Linked DNA regions of Homo sapiens: regions 1 and 2 are each linked to region 3. The links come from fine-mapping of genetic effects on gene expression. A gene starts in region 3. Each other region holds a variant in brackets. All regions are shown on one strand. Distances are between the middles of the regions. Region 1 overlaps ANXA3 (annexin A3). Region 2 overlaps LOC124900721 (a long non-coding RNA gene). Region 3 holds the start of ANXA3 (annexin A3).

What was found. PIP is the estimated chance that this variant, and not a neighbour inherited with it, causes the effect.
Region 1: its variant is fine-mapped to the expression of ANXA3 in blood mononuclear cells (TOPMed, PIP above 0.99). The same link has a PIP of 0.9 or more in whole blood.
Region 2: its variant is fine-mapped to the expression of ANXA3 in tibial nerve (GTEx, PIP 0.95).

What each region holds. Positions count from the first base shown.
Region 1 is chr4:78,597,516-78,603,971 of GRCh38, reverse strand. It overlaps ANXA3 (annexin A3), which reads right to left. Exons shown (of 13, transcript NM_005139.3): 11 at 2,404-2,462. Among named protein-coding and RNA genes, the nearest start is that of LINC01094, 45 kb to the left of the region's middle. The variant C/T (reference allele first, on the strand shown) is at 3,698.
Region 2 is chr4:78,617,471-78,623,926 of GRCh38, reverse strand. It overlaps LOC124900721 (a long non-coding RNA gene), which reads right to left. Exons shown (of 2, transcript XR_007058152.1): 1 at 6,360-6,456; 2 at 586-753. Among named protein-coding and RNA genes, the nearest start is that of LINC01094, 25 kb to the left of the region's middle. The variant G/C (reference allele first, on the strand shown) is at 4,100.
Region 3 is chr4:78,549,391-78,555,846 of GRCh38, reverse strand. ANXA3 (annexin A3) reads right to left here and starts at 4,077. Exons shown (of 13, transcript NM_005139.3): 1 at 3,988-4,077; 2 at 1,359-1,411. The coding sequence starts at 1,373. RefSeq lists enhancers at 2,458-3,657, 2,961-3,712.

The DNA of each region.
Region 1 (6,456 bases), 48 kb before region 3:
TACCATGGGAGCATACTTCAGGGGGGCCTAAGAAAGATTAGGGATTAGGAAAAGTCTGAGAAAGTGACATTTAAGCAAGGACTAAACAGTCAACAAGAGGAAGGAGTAGGTTCATGTAGGGAGGAGAGAAACTTCCTATAGAGGAAATAGCAGGCGTGAAGGTTTAGGGCAATAAAGAACGCCACGTTCAAGGATACGTAAGTTAACAAAGAGGGATAAAAAGAAATGTGTCTGGAAAGGCCAGACCTTGTTAACCATGAAATGAAATTCTGACTTTATCCTAAGTGTGGAGAGCTCTTGTAATATTTTAAACATGAGAATGTTGAGATCAGATCAAATTCGTGGTTTCAGAAAATCACTTTGACTGCAGCATGAGAAACAGATTGCAAGGTAGGAGTAGAAGGAAGATAAGGGAGTTAAGACTAGAGGCTTTGAGACTCATCTTGAGGAGACTGAGTAATTAAGAGATGATGATGGCCATCCTTAGAATAAAGGCAGTAGGGATGGAGAAAATGGGAAGATTTGAGAGTTGCTTATGTAAATGGATTGACAAAACATAATGATGTATCGCTACAGGATAATGAAAAAGAGAGATAGTGTAAAATTTCTAGCTGAGCAGTTAGGTGGATTTTGACCTAATGATGGCCAACATACTAAATGATATTCCATTCATCTATGTAATTCATCCAGCAAATGCTTATGAGCGTCGACTATAGCCAGGCATTATTCCATGTGCTGTGCCAATGGCGGTGAACAGAACAGATTATATCTCTGTCTGCATGGAGCTTATGTTCTAGTAGATGGAGACAGACAGCAAAGCAAATTAACTATTGCTTAAGTAAATAGTGATCAGAAATATGAAGAAAAGAAAGCTGGAAATGGCATGGAGAGTGACTGAAAGGGAACCAATTGGCCTGGTACAGTTAGGGGAGACCTCTCTCAGGAGGAGAGCTGAAACCTGAAAGATGAGAAGGAGTCAGCTAGGTAAAGATCTAGAGGATGAGCATTCCAGAGAAGGAATGGATGCAAAGACTGTGATGTGAGAATAGACTTGCCACAGTTGAGGAATGGAAAGAAGCCTGGGGTGGCTGAGGCATAGTCAAGAAGTCTGGGGAGGAATGGTACGACTTCAGAGAGTTGGGCAAATTCCTGTTGGGGCCATTCTCTGGGATGACTGAACAGGGGAAGGGGAGCAGATGTGGGGCTGGGCGAGATGAAGGAAAGGATGTGTTCACTTAGGATATGACTTTGAAGGTACGTGTGGGACCACAGAAAATGGCTGGTAAAGAGATGGAGGTAAGCATCTTCTGTGCACAAGGCCCTAGGGTCTGAGGATAAACAGGAGTCTGTACTCATGGAGCGCACCATCTGGCAGTAAAGACAGACAAGCAAACACAGGGTTACGGCATCATTAAAGGCTGCCAACTCAGCTTGGTTTATTTTAAGCAAGGCAGTTTGAGAGGCCACAGGATCTACTGGGTCTCAAGCTTGAGGTTTGGCATTCTAAAACAAGTTTTACTGCCTGCACTTACTGTGAAGCAGTGAAAATAATGTGGTCAATACTTCTCTGTACCTATCTCTATATGGGTTAGAATACTATTAACCTATGAGGCAAATCAGTAGACAAATTAGCTACTGTAGAAAACTAATCTAAGTGGAAAAGAAATATGACATTCTATCAACATTAAGCCATATTTTTACCTTCTCATTTTCTTTTTTTTTTTTTTTTTTTGAGACAGAGTCTCACTCTGTCGCCCAGACTGGAGTGCAGTGGCGCAATCTAGGCTCACTGCAACCTCTGCCTCCTGGGTTCAAGCAATTCTCTGCCTCAGCCTCGCGAGTAGCTGGGATTACAGTGCATCTGCTACCACGCCCGGCTAATTTTTGTATTTTTAGTAGAGACAGGGTTTCACCGTCTGGCCAGGCTGGTCTTGAACTCCTGACCTTGTGATCCACCCGCCTGGGCCTCCTAAAATGCTGGGATTACAGGCGTGAGCCACCGCGCCTGGCCTGCCTTCTCATTTTCTATTTAAAATAGAGGATGAACTTTTAAAATTTAATATTATACATGAATTTTCATCTTTCATACAAGTGGAATATTAGCATCTACTTAAACTCATCATATTAGAGAAAATGAGAATGTTTTAGTTAAATAGAAATCAAATTATACCTACTTAGAAAAAAATTATTTCATAAACCCAGGTCTGTTTATTTTGAAGAGAAAATCAGGTGTCTGTGTAAAGAGTGTATTGTATCATACCTTGATTTGCTGTAATATAATTTATCTTAAAATGTTTAAATTACATTAAAATAACTAATTTTTAAATATTTGTTCTACTATTTGCATACTTTCCCAAGGGAATTAAGGGACGCTAAGAATGCACATGAACTTTCCAGACCAACCTTCAAGGCTCGATGCAGTCTTTCGGCTAAAAAGGCCGGCGTGTTCCTCACACAATTAACTGTAACAAAAAGCAAATAATGTTCAGCTTCACGGAATAGAAATTGGGTTAATCTATAGTAAGTAATATGTTTTTTAAAAAGATTCTTTGGACTGTCATACCACTCTATCCCCTCCCCACAACTGGCTTTTACTTGGAATGAAAGAAAGGCTGCTTACCCTGATTTTCATAGCCTTTTAATACCATATTTGCACAGAACTTTAGCACAGTAATTATCTCCAGCCATGGGGAAAATAAAATTACCTGCCAAAGAAACTCCCACAGCGACTGACTCATCTCTGGATCCCAGACACCCCGAACACCTACGCTTTCCCTGATAACTCCCTAGGGTGCGACACTGCTCAGCTACTAGCATCTCGGGCTACTGATGAACAACCTGGGCCTGACAACTGCAGCGATGTTGCTCCAAATAACTCATTAGGCACGCAGGGGCACTGGAGTTCCATTTAAAAGCAATTTTTCCCATGGAAAGAATTTTCTTTTAAATGACTGGATTAGAATTTATAGGCTGGTTAGAGTGACTCCATTAGAACAAGTATCTGTCATCTAAATTCAGTTGCCTTAAAAAAAAAATACAATCCTTCAATTCTTTATTTTGAAATAACAAGTAAAGCAGAAATAAAACAAGAAAAAGGAAACTGACAAAAACGCAAGAGTAAATTATCTTTTAAATAAAAAGAAAATAGGAATAGAAAAGTCTGTAGGGAAGAAACCTATTTACAGCAACACAATTATTTTTATAATCTTAAATCTGATCTCTAGGTAGGAATCCAACCAAAAGTGAATGGATTTTATAATGAATTTTGGAGCTCAGAACAAGAATAAGTGACTTTCTCATCGTGGCTTATAGACTGTCTTAAGGAAAGCTAAAAGACTTTTGGCTTTTTGAGTGATTTAAGGGAAATAGAAGGAGAAATGTATTAGAAACCCAAACACAGCATTTAGAATCAAACTGTTACATGAAGTTCTCTGACAAGAAACTAACCATTTAAACTAGTAAAACTCACATTAAGTAAGCCATAATAGCTTGATAAAAAATAATGATGCCCACTTTCATCCTATTAAGCTTTCCAGTCACCTCCCTGCCAACTAGATTTGTACAATCCCTTCTTTTCATGATCCTTTCTTCCCTTTAGCTTGCCTTCTGCTTTATATTCTTACCTACTAGATTTGTTCTTCATATCTGAAAGTTTTGGAAGGTGGCAGTATGTTTCAGTGGGAAGGAGGCTTTATCA[C/T]CCAGCACCATAGGCAGGGAAGCTTGGGAGTCCGTTAGAGTTAATTACCATGACCAAGAATTCATAATTGCCCATTCCCTACCCTCTTCATTGTCTTGACCACACTTCCATCAGGCCTCTCTCCTCCCACAGGTTCCTGAACTCTGGCTTGTCCCCAGTCCTGGGCAAGCCCTAAAATGCAGAACATGCCTCTGTTGCAGCTTATCTTGAGAGTCCAGCTGTCCACTGCCAGACGTGTTTCCTGTCAATCCCCAGTGATCATGCCCTTGTGCTTGCCCAACATTAAAAGTTGCTGCTAAGACTTTTCTGTTGGATTTTGAAACTTTTGCACATTTTTCCCCATCTTTTAGAGATGGGATCTCACTTTTGTCACTCAGGCTCTGGTGTAGTGGCACCAACATAGCTCACTGGAGCCTCGACCTCCTGGGTTCAAGCACTCCTCCCACCTTAGCCCCTTGAGTAGCTGGGACTACAGGCGTCCACCAACCTACCCAGCTAATTTTTTATTTTTTTGTAGAATCTTTAATATATAGATTAACAATATAAAATGGAAAAAAAATTAACCAGTTCTATCATTGCCATTGGAACAGTCTCAGAATGCTGCTCTCACTATGTTGCCCAGGCTGGTCTTGAACTCCTGGCCTAAAGGGATCCTCCTGCCTCAGCCTCTCAAAGTGATGGGATTATGTGCATGAGCCACCACACCCAGCCCAGTCTTTCAGGTTTCTGAAATCAACATGTTCTCTCTATTGAAATAGTTCTACTGAATAAAGCCTCTCCTTACTTAAGTCTGGATTTGTTCTTATTTGGCAAGTAGTATGCTCCTATTACACGATTCTAAGATGACACAGCTCAGATCGTTTTTCATGTCAAAAACTATGTGTTGACCATTGTATTGGATTCCTTGTGTATGAAATATGCAGAGTAGGCAAATCTATAGAGACAGAAAGTAGATTAATGATTATAGGAGCCAGGGGGTGGGGAGGATTGGAAAGTGACTGTCAATAGTTACAGGGTTTCTTATGCGGCTGATTAAAACGTCCTAAACTTAGATTGTGGTGATGGTTGCAAAACCTTGTGACTACATTAAAAAGCATTGAATTGCACACTTTGAGTGGGTGAACTTTATGGTATGTAAGTTATATCTCAATAAAAAATTTTATAAACTGGTTTATTCCAATGGTAGACTGAAACAAAATGAAAGTGTAACATATTTTGAACTTCAATTGAATTATAAGGTCTTTTTTTACATGATAAAATAATGTGCATTATAGCCCAAATGTAATACATTATTCAATGATATATTTCCAAGAATGCTCCTTAGCTCAGTGAATGAGAGTTTGTACATCTCAACAAAGTTTTTCAAACATTACGGCTTAGCAAGAACACCAAATGAAAAACAGCAAGCAGAATTAATATAAAGATTAACAATATAGGCCAGGGGTGGTGGCTCAAGCCTGTAATCCCAGCACTTTGGGAGGCAGAGGTGGGCGGATCACTTGAGGTCAGGAATTTGAGACCACCCCGGCCAACATGGTGAAACCCTGTCTCTACTAAAAATACAAACGTTAGCCAGGCGTGGTGGCGTGTGCCTGTAATCCCAGCTACTTAGGAGGCTGAGGCACAAGAATTGCTTGAACCTGGAAGGCGGAGGTTGCAGTGACCTGAGATTGCGCCACCACACTCCAGCTTGGGCAACCGAGCGAGACTCCGTCACAAAGAAAAAAAAAGAAAAAAAGATTAACAATGTAAAATGGAAAAAAAAATTAACCAGGTGTATCATTACCACTGGAACAGTCTGAGAACTAATTATGAAGACTGATCTCAATTCTACTTTTTTAATTGAAGAAGAAAGTTTTCCCTTTCTTAGCCTCCTCGGCTTATCTTTTAGCAATTCAGAGTCAACAATGAGCTGAGATTGTGCCACTGCACTCTAGTCTGGGTGACAGAGTGAGACTCCATCTCAAAAGAAAAAAAAAAAAGAAAGAAAGAAAAGAAAAGCCACTGATATCTTTCATAAATAACCAAATATGGTGGATTACCAAACTGGCTTAGGTCTTAGTTGCATGTGTGTGTGTGTGTGTGTGTGTGTGTGGTTTTTTTAATTAAAGAGACAAGATCTTGCTATGTTGCCCAAACTGGCCTTGAACTCCTTGGCTCCAGCAATCCTTCCACCTCAGCCTCCCAAGTAGGTAAGACTACACGTGCATGCCACTGTGCTTTGCCTACGTCTCAGTTTTCAACAAAGCTCAATAAAAATGCCAGTAGAAATAAAATATTTCAGCTCTCAAGAAGTCTACAAGCTAAACATGGTCACAAGACAAATACAAATTTAAAAAGCAAGGTAAGATTTAAAAAGATGGCTGGATGTGGTAGCTCACACCTGTAATCCCAACACTTTGGGAGGCTGAGGTGGATGGATTGCTTGAGCTCAGGAGTTCACGACCAGCCTGGGCAACATGGTGAAACCCCATCTCTACAAAAAATACAAAATTAGCTGGGCCAGGTGGTATACATGCTTGTTGTCTCAGCTACTTGGGAGGCTGAGGTGGGAGGACTGCTTGAGCCCAGGAGGTTGAGGCTGCAGTGAGCTGAGATCACACCACTGCACTCCAGCCTGGGTGACAGAGTGAGATCCTGTTTCAAAAAAGAAAAAGAAAAAAGACTTAAAAAAATAACTTCTTCAAGCATTCATTTAACAATATTTGTTGAGCGTACTGTGTGTATCCTGGACCATGTTGGGGGCTGTAGGGAGCAAA
Region 2 (6,456 bases), 68 kb before region 3:
GTACACTGAGCCCAATTTGCAGTCTTATATCCCTCACCCCCTCCCACCTTTCCCCCCAGGTCCCCAAAGTCCATTGTGCCATTCTTATGCCTTTGCATCCTCATAGCTTAGCTCCCACTTATGAGTGAGAACATATGATGTTTGATTTTCCTTCCTGAGTTACTCACTTAGAATAATAGTCTTCTATCCCATCCAGGTTGCTGTGAATGCCATTAATTCATTACTGAGTAGTAATTTTTATTTTATGGCTGAGTAGTATTCGCTTTCTCTATATATAGGTCTCTCTATATATAGCTATATAATAGCTCTATATATATAGCTATATAATAGCTCTATATATATAGCTATATAATAGCTCTCTATATATATATAGCTATATAATAGCTCTCTCTCTATATATAGCTATATAATAGCTCTCTCTCTATATATAGCTATATAATAGCTCTCTCTATATATACACATATATCTAGAGAAATTCTATATATACATATAGAGAGATACATATACCTTCATACATATATAGTATGTATTATATATGTATTTATTATATATATAGAGAGAAATACACACACGCACACACATATATATATAGCAAGAGAGAGAGACAGAGATTTATTTTAGGAATTGGCTCACGTTATTGTACAGGCAGGCAAGTCCAAAATCTTCAGAGTGAGCTGGTCACCTGGAGCCCCAGGGAAGAGTTGGTATTGCTGGTCAAGTCTAAAGGCAGTCTGCTGGCAAAATTCTCTCTGCCTAATGGGAAGGAGAGGGAGTCTTTATCTGTTAAGGCCTCCAGCTGATCAGATGAGAGCCACCCACATTATGGAAGATAATCTGCTTTACTCAAAGTCTACTGATTTAAATGGCAATCTCATTTAAAAAATATTCTCACAGACACAATTAGAATAATATTTAAACAAATACTGTGGTCTAGCCAATTTGACACAGAAAATTAACCATCACAGTCCCCATTCACATGGATCCTCTTTCTTCTGCCGTCTGGCCTGAAAGATGCTCTCCTGTGAAATCACTGTTCTCCCAACTGTTTTCAGCATGATAGCCTTATCTTCTCTGCTCAAGTCAGCGGGTGAGGTGGAGCGGCCAGCTCTTTCCTCCCTCCAGTGTGCTTTCTCACCCTTGAACTACCCTCACCCACTCTCACCCTCTGCCCAGTTGAAGACTGTGCAGTTCTCAATGCTGTGACTCACCAGATTCCATCCTCACTTCCCAAGCTTACTTCAGCAGCGGACTCAGTCCTGCTCCTCTGCCCTGCCCTTTGCCATAATCTATATTGACTCTGGAATCCACATTAACCTTTTAGATTCCTTTACCCCAGAGGTATTTCCTGGGTTGAAGACCTCCACCTTTGACCTGCCTTAGTCAGTGTCGTTAACACTCAGGGTAATCTCTGTTTCTGAGATCTATTATCCCATTTGCAGCCACAGCCTGTCATCTCCTTCACCCCACCCAGGAAGCCCATCTCTAGCTTCCCTGGAACCTCTCCTGCGTCACATGATCTATCCCATTTCATTCACTAATTCTATTTGCCTTCACTGCTTCCTGCCTTGCTTACTAGAATCATAGACTCCCTGTGTGCCCCTAAATTCTGGACTTCACTTCCAAAGAACCCATGGAAATAAATGTAAAGTAGTAATAAGGTGGCAATGTGGTAGATAAAATTAGATGGGATTTCCTCCTCCTCTTCTTATTGCTCCTATTCTTCATCTTCCTCTCATTCGTTTTCGTTTGTGTTTCCAGGTAACTGTGCTTTGAAGAAAGAGGTGGAACTTTGAAGCTGTGGCTCATTTCCTTCCCAGAGCCATCTAACTTGAGCCACCCCAGTGCTCCTCCTACCTCTCCATTTCACTTCCAAAACACTTGGTGACTCCCTAGCACGCCAACACAGAGAATCACTGTTCTAGAGGATTTCTACCCTAAAAGCCTCCGTTTTCTTCTCTCAACTCCTCCACCCTGTAACCCCACAAAGTTACACACAGTTACACCTCCTACTTTATAGTGACTACTGAAAATAGTCCTTCCTATTTTGGGATGTGTCCCTCCAGAAACAGATGCTGAGAAAAGGATCCAGGGATCCCAGGAAGCACTGGGAAGTGAGTGCAGAAGTGAGACAGAAAAAGAAAGAAAGCCGGTACAGGGTGTGTTGTGAGTCAGTTGTCACTGCGGGCAGCTGGGGCTCAGACTTCCTGGGGGTCTCAGGGGCAGCATAGATCATGCCTCAGAGTTGTCTCACTTGGGAGGCAAGAGCCTGTGGTATTTATCCATGGCCTCCATCTGTCACTGGTTGAGAGCCACCCCAGGGGTGTTACTCCCTGACACTTCTGTTCTGACCCAAGTGTGGTCAGCTCCCACAGACAGATAAAGGCTGCAGCAGGGTCACCGGCACTTGCAGTAAGGAGAGTCAGAACGTAGGAAATGCTGAGTGTCAGGGACATCTATGGAGCACCAAGAACCTTCTATGTTTCCTATCTAACTAGCTTTACTGTAAATGTAACTATCCCTGTTTCTAGCTTCCTATCCTTTTATTCATTGTCTTAGGTATTCTTGGATGTATCATTTTAATTTAATCTTCTTGACCATAGAAGTTGGCATTATCTCAATTTTATAGAAGAAGAAACTGAGAAATTAAGAGTAAGCAACTTCACAAAAATTACCAAGCTAGTAAGTTCTGGAACTGTTATTTAAAGTCTCAAAAATCCAAGTATTTTCTAGTGGAGCAGAAATGCAAGGGCAGAACCTTGGGACCACCCATCATTATTAGCAATGTCCTGGGTAATAAGAGATGGGTTCAGAGTAGAAATAGAGGGGTTATGTCAGAGAAGGGAAAAAACTCTTCATCTAAGACTGGTTTTGACCCTGTTCCCTGATTCAATTACTATTGACACAGCACACTAAAGCTTAGTAGGCCAGAATCTTACTGTTTCTCCCAGAGGCCCTTATATAATTTCTAAGAACAAAGATCAGATAAAATGCAATTTGCAGAATAAGTGATGTCTGGCATATAATAAGTACTCAATTTAATTTAACAATTATGTATTGATAATCTAATATGTGCCAGGCGTTGGACTAGATGCTAAGAATGATGGTGGACCACAAATATTGACTGACAGAGGCAGGAGTTCGCTTTTGAATATGAAATATATACCCCACATTCTCAAACTAACTAATTATACATAACCATCAACTAACAATGGCCACTTTCACAGTTAAGACGAACCTAGTACTCAATAGTTTTCTCAGATCTGCCTTGACTTATTTTCATTTAACATTTAACAACAGCAGATAATGTTGACGTGAAAAGAGCACACTAAACATAGGATTGCTGTGAGGATTAAATGAAATAAGTGCCAAATCCCAGGCATTTAATATAATTGATCATTCTTATCTTTATTATAGACTGTAAGTTCCATGAAAACAGGCACTGAATTTTTTTTTCTTTTTTTTGAGATGGAGTCTCGCTCTGTCACCCAGGCTAGAGTGCAGTGGCATTATCTAGGCTCACTGCAACCTCTGCCTCCCAGGTTCAAGCAATTCTCCTGCCTCAGCCTCTTGAGTAGCTGGGATTACTAGTGTGCGCCACCATGCCCGGCTAATTTTTGTATTTTTAGTAGAGACTGGGTTTCACCATGTTGGTCAGGCTGGTCACGAACTCTTGACTTCAAGTGATTCATCCGCCTCGGCCTCCCAAAGTGCTGAGATTACAGGCTTGAGCCACCGCGCCCAGCCGAACAGGTAGTAAATTTTTACATGTATATGCAGCTTTTAGAGTAGTGTTTAGTACACAGTAGGCTTTCAGTTCACATTGATAGGCTAAATGAGTAATATGGATATTATTACTCCAATTTCTCAGATGAAATTAATACTCAGAGAGATTGAATAAGCTGCTCACTTTCTCAAAGCTAGTTGCTGTAAGAGTTAGGATAAATGACCTATTTCTTTTTTTTTTATCCTATGTACAGTCATTCCTAATAAATAACGTACTTCTAACTCCACTGTGCCCTAAGGGCTTCTCTAAAGCATGTAGCGTGACGCTGAGCACACAGTAGTTCTTCAACAGTTGCCACTATTGCTGTGTGTCACC[G/C]GTCAGCGGTGTGTTATTAGTTCATTACTGTCTTATGATAAACTTCTCCATTGGCTTGCAGGTACAGAGAGCAACTCTGCTGCTTCTCCTCCGGAGTGCGGCATCATCTTCCTGCTCTTCCTTCCATTTGCTCTGTTGGCTCCTACTCCCCTTCCACTGAAGTAACTGTAGCTTTCCCCAGGGCTTAGGCCCAGGCCCTACTGAACCTCTATTTCTGTGTGTTTGTCTGCACGTCTGCAATCACTTCAACTCAAACTGCACCCACCAACGACATGACCCTTAGAAGCTGCCAAATCCTCGTTGCTGAATGGTTTCAGTACTGCTACTGCTGGAGAAAAAGAAGAAAAATTCACATCCTTCCCCCCAAAAAAGAAAGGGGGAAACATGGAACCAGGGAAATTCTGTAAGTAATGGTGAACTGTTTATTCAGGGCTCCAACTCTGCCCTTGCACATGTGCCCCGCTGTGGCACAGTCTATAGTTTTGAACTTCGGATAGTACAGTGCTCAGCAAGTGAAGATATTACCTTCTGGTCTGAGAGCCTCCTGACCAGTCTTGTCAGATTGAAAGATACTGACTTGGCTCTATCAAGGTGGCTTCTGTCCTGTACTAGATGACTTTATATTATTGATATGTAAGCTTCTGAGAGACTTATTTAGACTTCAGTATTACTGACCGTTAGATGCCAGTGATGTGTGGTGAAGTTGCTCAGTGTGTGAAGTCAGAGAATTTATGAGACACCCAAGTGTTCAGACCTACCTCCCAACCCCAGAGCCCAAGAAACGGGCCTCTAAAGTAAAGAGCTTTGTAACTGTTGCTACTGCTGTATCATGGTCCCAGCGTGAGAGAGTCAAGCGTATAGATTTTGGATCTACTGTATAGAAATCTCAGTTTGTTTTGTGGCTCCAGAACTATATCTAGAGTGGTCTTAACGTTTCTGAGCCTCTTTCCAGACTAGTAAATTGAGATAAGGTTACCTGCCTCATGGTGTTGTTATAAAGTCAAAATGAGACAAAATATATGAATTGCTCATAGTGAGTGTTAAGAAATGGTGCTTATTATTATTGAAACAAGAGGACCTCTGAAAGAATGCAAGTCAATGCCTACTGGCTCTTCAGGTCGGTTGGCTGAGAAGAGCATGTGAGGTTATAAAGCCACAGTCCAAAGGGAGCTGAATTCTCTCTGCCTGCACAGAGAGGTCAAGAATGTGGTGCAGTTGGTTAAGTTGTGAAAGTTCCACATGATTATACAGAATTTGCAGTCCTTTGTCAATTTTCCCATAATGACTAAGTCTTTCAAAATAAAAAAGACCTTATGCATATACTTGATAACAGCAAAAGAGACTGGGAAATTGGGGAAAGATGTAAATAATAGCCAATGACTACATATTTCAGATATTGTGCTAATTCCTTTACTTGTGTTTCCTCATCTAATTCCTTGTATCTTCCATGACAGATCTAAGCATTCCATCCTTCCTGGCACCTGGGTCTTCCTGGCACTATGAATTGATAAATTATTACTCCTATCTTAGAAACAAAAGGAAATGATGGATCAGCGAGGCTAAGTAATTTGCCGAAAGTTACACGGCAAGTTGGTGGTACTGAAACCAACATTGTATGGCTCTGGCATCTTTCCTTCACATCTAGGAAAGGGAAGGCCAGGGGGCCTGTTTTTCCTGAAGAAAGAAGACAGGACCATCACACTGAGGAAGCCAAGAAAAGCAGTGCAGGAAAAGCCGGGCAAGTGCAGTGTTCCCAGAGACGTAACCAGAGAAAGATCTGTGAAGTTTCCTCACAGGGACTTTCTCTGGGTGGATTCTAGATTCTGGGAAGCCGTGGGCCTCCCAAGAAGTTTTTGGCAGCACCTGGTCCAGCCAAACTACATATTCAATACCCAGAAGAGAGAGAGAGGAGAAAATCAAGAATGGACAGTTTGTTGCCTGGTGGCCAGGGAAGGTCCCCATATTGAAATAATTCAAAGTAGACTTAACAGTGCAAAGGCTTCTTTTTCATGTCAACAGTGCTGAGGTTAGCCAGAAATTAAAGCAGAGGAGGTTAGGAAGAGACAGGAGGTAGAGAGAGGAAGGAAGTGCTTTTCTCCCCACCACCGTCTTCTCTCTAGAAACATGTTTGAATAAATTGGAGACATTCTCCAGTCATTGCTGCCTAATGGAGTTTTCCATTGACAGAAGGCTCAGGTGTGGGCTGGTTACACAGAGGATCTGAAATAACACTCAGGGGCCCTGTGCTTTTTGGTCCTACCTCCTTGGAGTCCTGAAGACTGAGGTGAGGCACAGGAAGAATTGGAAAAGACGCATGTCTATCCATACCACTCACTTCCTAGGAAAGAGTCAGCTCT
Region 3 (6,456 bases):
TAGGGTTTCACTCTGTCACCCAAGCTGGAGTACAGTGGTATGAACATGGCTCACTGCAGCCTCCACCTCTTGGGCTTAAGCGATCTTACCACCTGAGCCTCCCAAGTATCTAGGACCATGGGTACACCCCACAACGTTCAGCTAATTTTTAAAGTTTTTTTTTTTTTTTTTTAAGAGACTGGGTCTTGCCATATTACCCATGCTGGTCTCGAACTTCTGGGCTCAAATGATCCTCCCATCTTGGCCTCCCAAAATGCTGGGATTATAGGTGTGAGCCACTGTGTCCAACCTTGTAGCACCTTCTGATGTTATTGGACATTTATAATTCTTTTTATGTCCTGTTTATGTCCCTTACAACTTTTTCTGTCAAGTTCATTTTTTAAACCAATTTATTCAAGTTATTTGTATGTTAAGGAAATAAGTCTTTTGTCTAATGTGCTGCAAATATTTTTTCCCTGCGAGCTGTCTTCTGCCTCTACCAATGGGATTGTTGGCTGTCATAGTGATAAACTTGTATGTAGTTAAAATAGATCAATATTTTTCTTTTAGGCGTTTGGTTTTGTGTCACAGTTGTAAGCATCTTCCCCACTCCAAGAATATTCTTCAATCCATTCATATTTCTTTCTCTTTTTCTATTTTTTTGAGACGGAGTCTCACTCTGTCTCTCAGGCTGGAGTGCAGTGGCATGATCTCAGCTCACTGCAACCTCTGCCTCCCAGGTTCAGGCGATTCTCCTGCCTCAGCCTCCTGAGTAGCTGGGATTACAGGCATCTGCCATCGCACCGGGCTATTTTTGTATTTCTAGTAGAGACACGGTTTCACCATGTTGGCCAGGCTGGTCTCAAACTCCTGGCTTTAGGTGATCCACCCACCTCGGCCTCCCAAAGTGCTAGGATTACAGGTGTGAGCCACCACACCCGGCCCATTCATATTTCATCTTCTTCATTTCTGTATTTTATCCACATGGAAGTTATTTTATTGTAAGGAGAAAAAGGAATACAGATTTACTTTTTCCCCAAACAGCTAGAAGTTTTCCTAACATTTATTGAATAATCCGTCTCTTCTTCTCTGATATGTCATCTTTTTCATATAATAAATTCCCAAATTATATACTAAATTTATTATCTGATTTTGACCTTTCCGCCTTGGTGTCATCATAAGTTATTTTAACTATGTAACTTTACAATGCATTTTTAAAAATATTTTATTATTTTTGACATCCTCTGGCTTTTCTAGCATGTTAATTTTGCCAGATAAACTTAAAAACTTTCCTAAAATTTTCCTTGCTATCTTGACCTTCTGTGTTTTGGTTTGACTCATATATGTTACTGTGTTGTGAAGGCTTAATTTTTACTTACCCAGATAGATGCCATGATATCCCACCTTTGCCTTGAGCTGAGATCACACTAATCTATTAAAAGAAAACAATTAGTAAATGGTATCAATATGTGATTCAGAACACAATAATCTTAGTCCAACCCTTAATCTTGAATCCAGAAAACAGATGTCAACATTCACAGAAAAACCTTCTCAGGAAGAGCATATATCTGACATTGGGTATCCCATTTGCTAAACAAACATTTACTGAGCATCTACCATATGCAAGGGACTGTGCTAGACCTGTGAGGACTTCAAGACAAGAGACAGAAAAAAATCTTTGTACTTAAGATGCTTACAAATATACTTCCTGAAAAGCCAATTTTTGACTTATTTAAAGTCCAGGAGAACTCTGCTGATTACTGACAGGCTACCACTACGGGGATCAATAACAACAAAAACACAGGATTTTACTCCTCCTCACCAAATCAACACAAAGTTTAGCTGCCTTCAGTTGGATTCCTTGTGCTTGATTGTGAAACTCCATGTACATTTTACAAGGCTCCAAGCCTACAGTCTGTTATAAAGACACATCTGCTCTTTGAGGAGGTGGTCCAGTCCTTGGTGGGGTGCAGAGGTGAAAGGCACAGTTCTTTGATTGGGAAGCCAGACACATTTTTCTTAAATAGATATTATTCAAACATGCTGGCATATCTCCAGGGTTGATTTAGAAATGCAAGTTGCTCCCACCCTTCCTGGGAACAAAATATTCTAAAAATTCCCTGACACCCCCAGAGAAAAGTTCAATGGGAAATTACACTATTAGTCTCTGGAAATATTTCACCTTGGTTTTTTCAGGCTCTCTGTAGCCTAGGGCAGTCAACTCTCCAGTTAGAGTCTAATACTGCATCTCTCTAAATACATGCTCTTTGACTTATGAGGGGTTACAGCCAGATAAACTATTCTGAAGTCTAAAAATCAGAAGTCAAACCATCTGTACAGTGAAAACAAGGCATTATTGGTTCTCATTTTGCCTCTTAAAGCTAAACACAATTTCTTTGGGCCTCAATTTCCTCATCTGTAAAAAGTGAAGAAGGGGGTGTTGCCAGCATTGAACGAGGTCAGTTTCACAGGGCTGGAGATTCTTCTTATCTGTGTGCACTGGTGCACGGTAGATATTTAAAAAAAAAACTTATTGATTAAATGAATGATTTAATACAAGCCGCACAATCATCCAGTGAGTTAGGTATTACATCTTCGTTTTGCATATGAAGAAGCTGGAGCCCAGAGAGGTATGGTAATGTCCCACAGTCACACAGCTAGTGAGTGGACCCCTACTGCATCTAGGCAGCTAGACTCTAAAGGTATGAACCTAACCCCCATGCTTCTGCCTTAATCTGCTGCCTGGCCCACACCTGACCAAATCTGACACTTAATATGCATTGATCCAGCAGAACTGGAAAATTATTAAGAATTATTACTAATCTATCATTTAACTTTTAAGATGTAAAGAATTACTCCACAGCGAAGGCCAAATGACTTAAACAGAATTTCAATATATCCTTTCCTGAAAGGGATTACATCATTTCCTTTTACTTCCTCCTCTACGGTTATTTCTAAACAGGTTTCTCTACACAACCACAGAGTTCTGGGAACAAGATTCTGGTTTTCTTTACATTTAAAAATTCCCTTTCTGGTCAGTCTGAAGTTTTCCGTCTTCGTGAAAACCAAAGGTGGTATCTTCATGGAGTAACGTTTTAATTAGTTACATTTTAAAAAATGATGTTGGTGAACATAGTAAATGTATCTTTCCCGGAGGGCAGGGTCTTGCTGTCAGTGCTGAACACAAATCCTTGGAAAGAATTCGGCCTGGGCTATGCAATTTCGTATCAGTAGCCAGAGGGGCCTCCAGCGACCCAGAACCTCCCAGCACCTGCATACTTTCCTATATATGGTCATCTGCAATCAAGTATCCAAATCTTCCACCTGGTGACTCAAATACCAAGGGAATGATTCATATCTAGTCAATAGGATTCTGTTGCAAAGAAAACGGTTAGTCTTTTCAGGAAAAAGCAAACTTCTTGAACTTCCAACCCTCAATATGCAAATCCACTGTTTTCTACCTTCTAAAAAAAATAAGTAAAATAAAATAAATTGCCTATGTGAGGGGGAGAAGATGCTCACAGGATGGGTGCGATTCCAAGTCCACAGAGCAGACCTCTGAGCCAGCCCCGTCTGCCATGCCGGGGACCCGAGGAACCTTCCGACTCCCAGCTTTTTTCTGTCCCCTAGACCTTTAGGACTGGGGAGGCCGAGATGGCTAAGTGGATCCCTTACGCTGCTAGCTGTAATAAGCGAAGCTTTCAGGGAGCGAGGACAGCTGAGTATCAGCTTGGGCCCCACCAAGACCTGGGTGACCCACCCATGGCACGGCACTTTCCCCCCCGTGGGCCCAGTCTCCTCGACTCTGAAATGCAGGACTGAGGTCCCTCCAGCTCCCCACCCACGCAGCTGGGTTGGGGCCGGGCGCGGGCGCCAGCCGCCAGCCCTGCCCAGGGTCGAGCTGCACTCGCGGGGGAACTGGGCGAGGCGCCGCGACCTCCCCAAGCCACCCGTCAGCAGGCGGCTGTGGGCGAGGCTCGCGGGGACGCGCCGGGAGGCTGAACTTACCCAAAGCGCGGTGGGGGAAACTGGTGTGCGAGTAAACTGCGAACAAACTGCGAGCGAAGGTGTCAGCCGCGGGCGCAGGTGCTCCGCGCTGGCTCCGGGTCCGGATCGCGACCGCACCCCTTCCTCCTGCCCCTCCTCCGGCCTCTCGACTCCACCTGATTGCGGCCCCAGGCCCCGGGAAAGGGAAGCCGCGCCCTGCTGCCGCCGGGCTCTATCCCTGTACACAGGCGCCCCAGCTCTGCTCCCTCACCGGTCTCTAAGCTTCCCCACCCTTTTCTCCCTACGCCCTCATTTCGCTCTCGGTTTCCACTACACCTTTACTTTCTCAAATGTACTGCAATGCTTATTTTGTTCTAGGCAGTGTGGATTCGGAGATTAGACTGTCCCTATACCTAAGGAACTCACTGCGTGGCATAGGTGGCGGACACCTAACATTAATAACATTGATCTGGCATTTACTTTGTACCAGGCACTGTTCTAACTTCTTTAAGAATATGCGCGGATTTATTAGGTTGGTGCAAAAGTAATTGCGGTTTTTGCCATTAAAATGGCTCCGACAACAACTCTATGAGGTAGATACTATTATCCCCATTTTATAGATGAGGAAATTGAGATACAGAGACGTTGGGTAACTTCAGCCAATTTACACAGAAGGTAAATGCCAGAGCTAGTGTTTGGAACCCAACTATTTCAGTAATTCCTCTACTAAACGTGTTGACCCTCTGGTATGAGGATTCCAACCAAAGGCTCAGGGAGACGGTAACCTGGAAGGGCATTCTAGGCATTTGGAAGAGCAAAACAAATCATCGAGGCTAAAAGGTTAAAGCCCTACTCGTATGAGGGAATTATGAGCAGTTGTGTGCTGAAGGATGTAGAAAAAGTTACCATGTATTGAGTATCAGGCATTGAAGTGCTTGAATACCTTACCTCTTTTATCTTCAAGGGAACTCTAGGAGGTGCTATTTTTATCACAATTTGCAGAAGAGAAAACTGAGGCTTAGAAAAGTGAAGTGATTTATCCGAGACCACGTAAGTAAAAAGTATTGCTTGCACTCAGTCATCACTGGGCCCCTTATGTATTCACCCGAAGGATTTGAAAACTTACCTCCACAAACACCTGCACATGGATGTTTATAGTAGCTTTACTCCTAAGTATCAAAAGTCGGAAGCAACCAAGATGTAATTCGTAGGTGAATGGATAAATAAACTGTGATACATCTATACAATAGAATTTTATTCAGCACTGAAAAGAAATTAGCTATCAAGCTATAAAAACACATGGAAGAAACTTAAATGCATATTATTAAGAGAAAGAAGCCCATTTGAAAATGCTACACACTATGATTCCAACTATATGACATTCCAGAAAAGGCAACACTACGGAGACAGTAAAAAAAATCACTGGTTTCTAGGAGTTGAGAGGAGGTAGGGTGAACAGGTGGAGCACAGAGGATTTTTAGAGGATAAGCATGGCTGGAGCTGCTTGAGTGTGAGTTGAAGAGATTACAGTCTTGGTCCTTAAGGCTGAGTCCTGGGACCTAGAAACTCATTAGAAATGCAAATTCCCTGAAACCCTGCGCCATCAAGTGATTCTGATGCATCCTAAAGTTTGAGAACCACTGGTTTAAGAGGAGCTACAACGGAGAAGGCAGAAGTGGTCATGCTTAAAAGGCCAGTGCCCTGGGAGCCCTCTCAGATCTACAAATCCGAAGTGATGGGCTTTCTGCAAGAGAGAAGATAGGATGGTGTTCTGCATTCTGTTCTGCATAGTAATTCCTGACTCCCATTCAGACTTCACCACAATAAACTGTTAAATCCCATGTTACCTCAAAAAATTCTGAGATTAGCATGAAATGGGGGAAAATATTTATTATTATTTGTGCCAGACACTGGGTAATGCACTTGACGTACGTGATCTATGTCATGCTTACCAACTAGCTGTAAATTAGGTATGATTGCCTCTATTTTGCAGATACAGACACAGGCTCAGAGGGACTCAGTAAGTTCTACGAGTTGTATTCCAGGCAACTAGGAAGTCATAGGGCTAGATTTATAGCCAGAAGAAAATGAGTAACAGGTGATGTTTTACATGTAGGCTTTATTTTAATTGTTTAAACCATTCAGGATTTAACTTCTTTGATTTCCTGATGGTAACTTTAACAAATGCACTTTTATCATTTTTTGAGTTTTTCTAGTTGTATCAACAGCCCAATTACCACCATTTATATTAGAAACATGCTATGGCATATTATAAAACTATTTTTTCCCCAAAGGATGAGTTTTCTTGGAAGGAAATATTAGAGGATGCTGTTAGAATCCAGGTTTATGGTTATCCAGAAAAAGAATTCAGAAAAGGTTATTTAATAAAAGTTTCATTATTCTGAATACACAGAACTTTACAGGTTAGTAAAAAGGGAATTTTCCTATAGCATCCTGATCAAAAGAACAATTTAACAGCCAAATACAAAT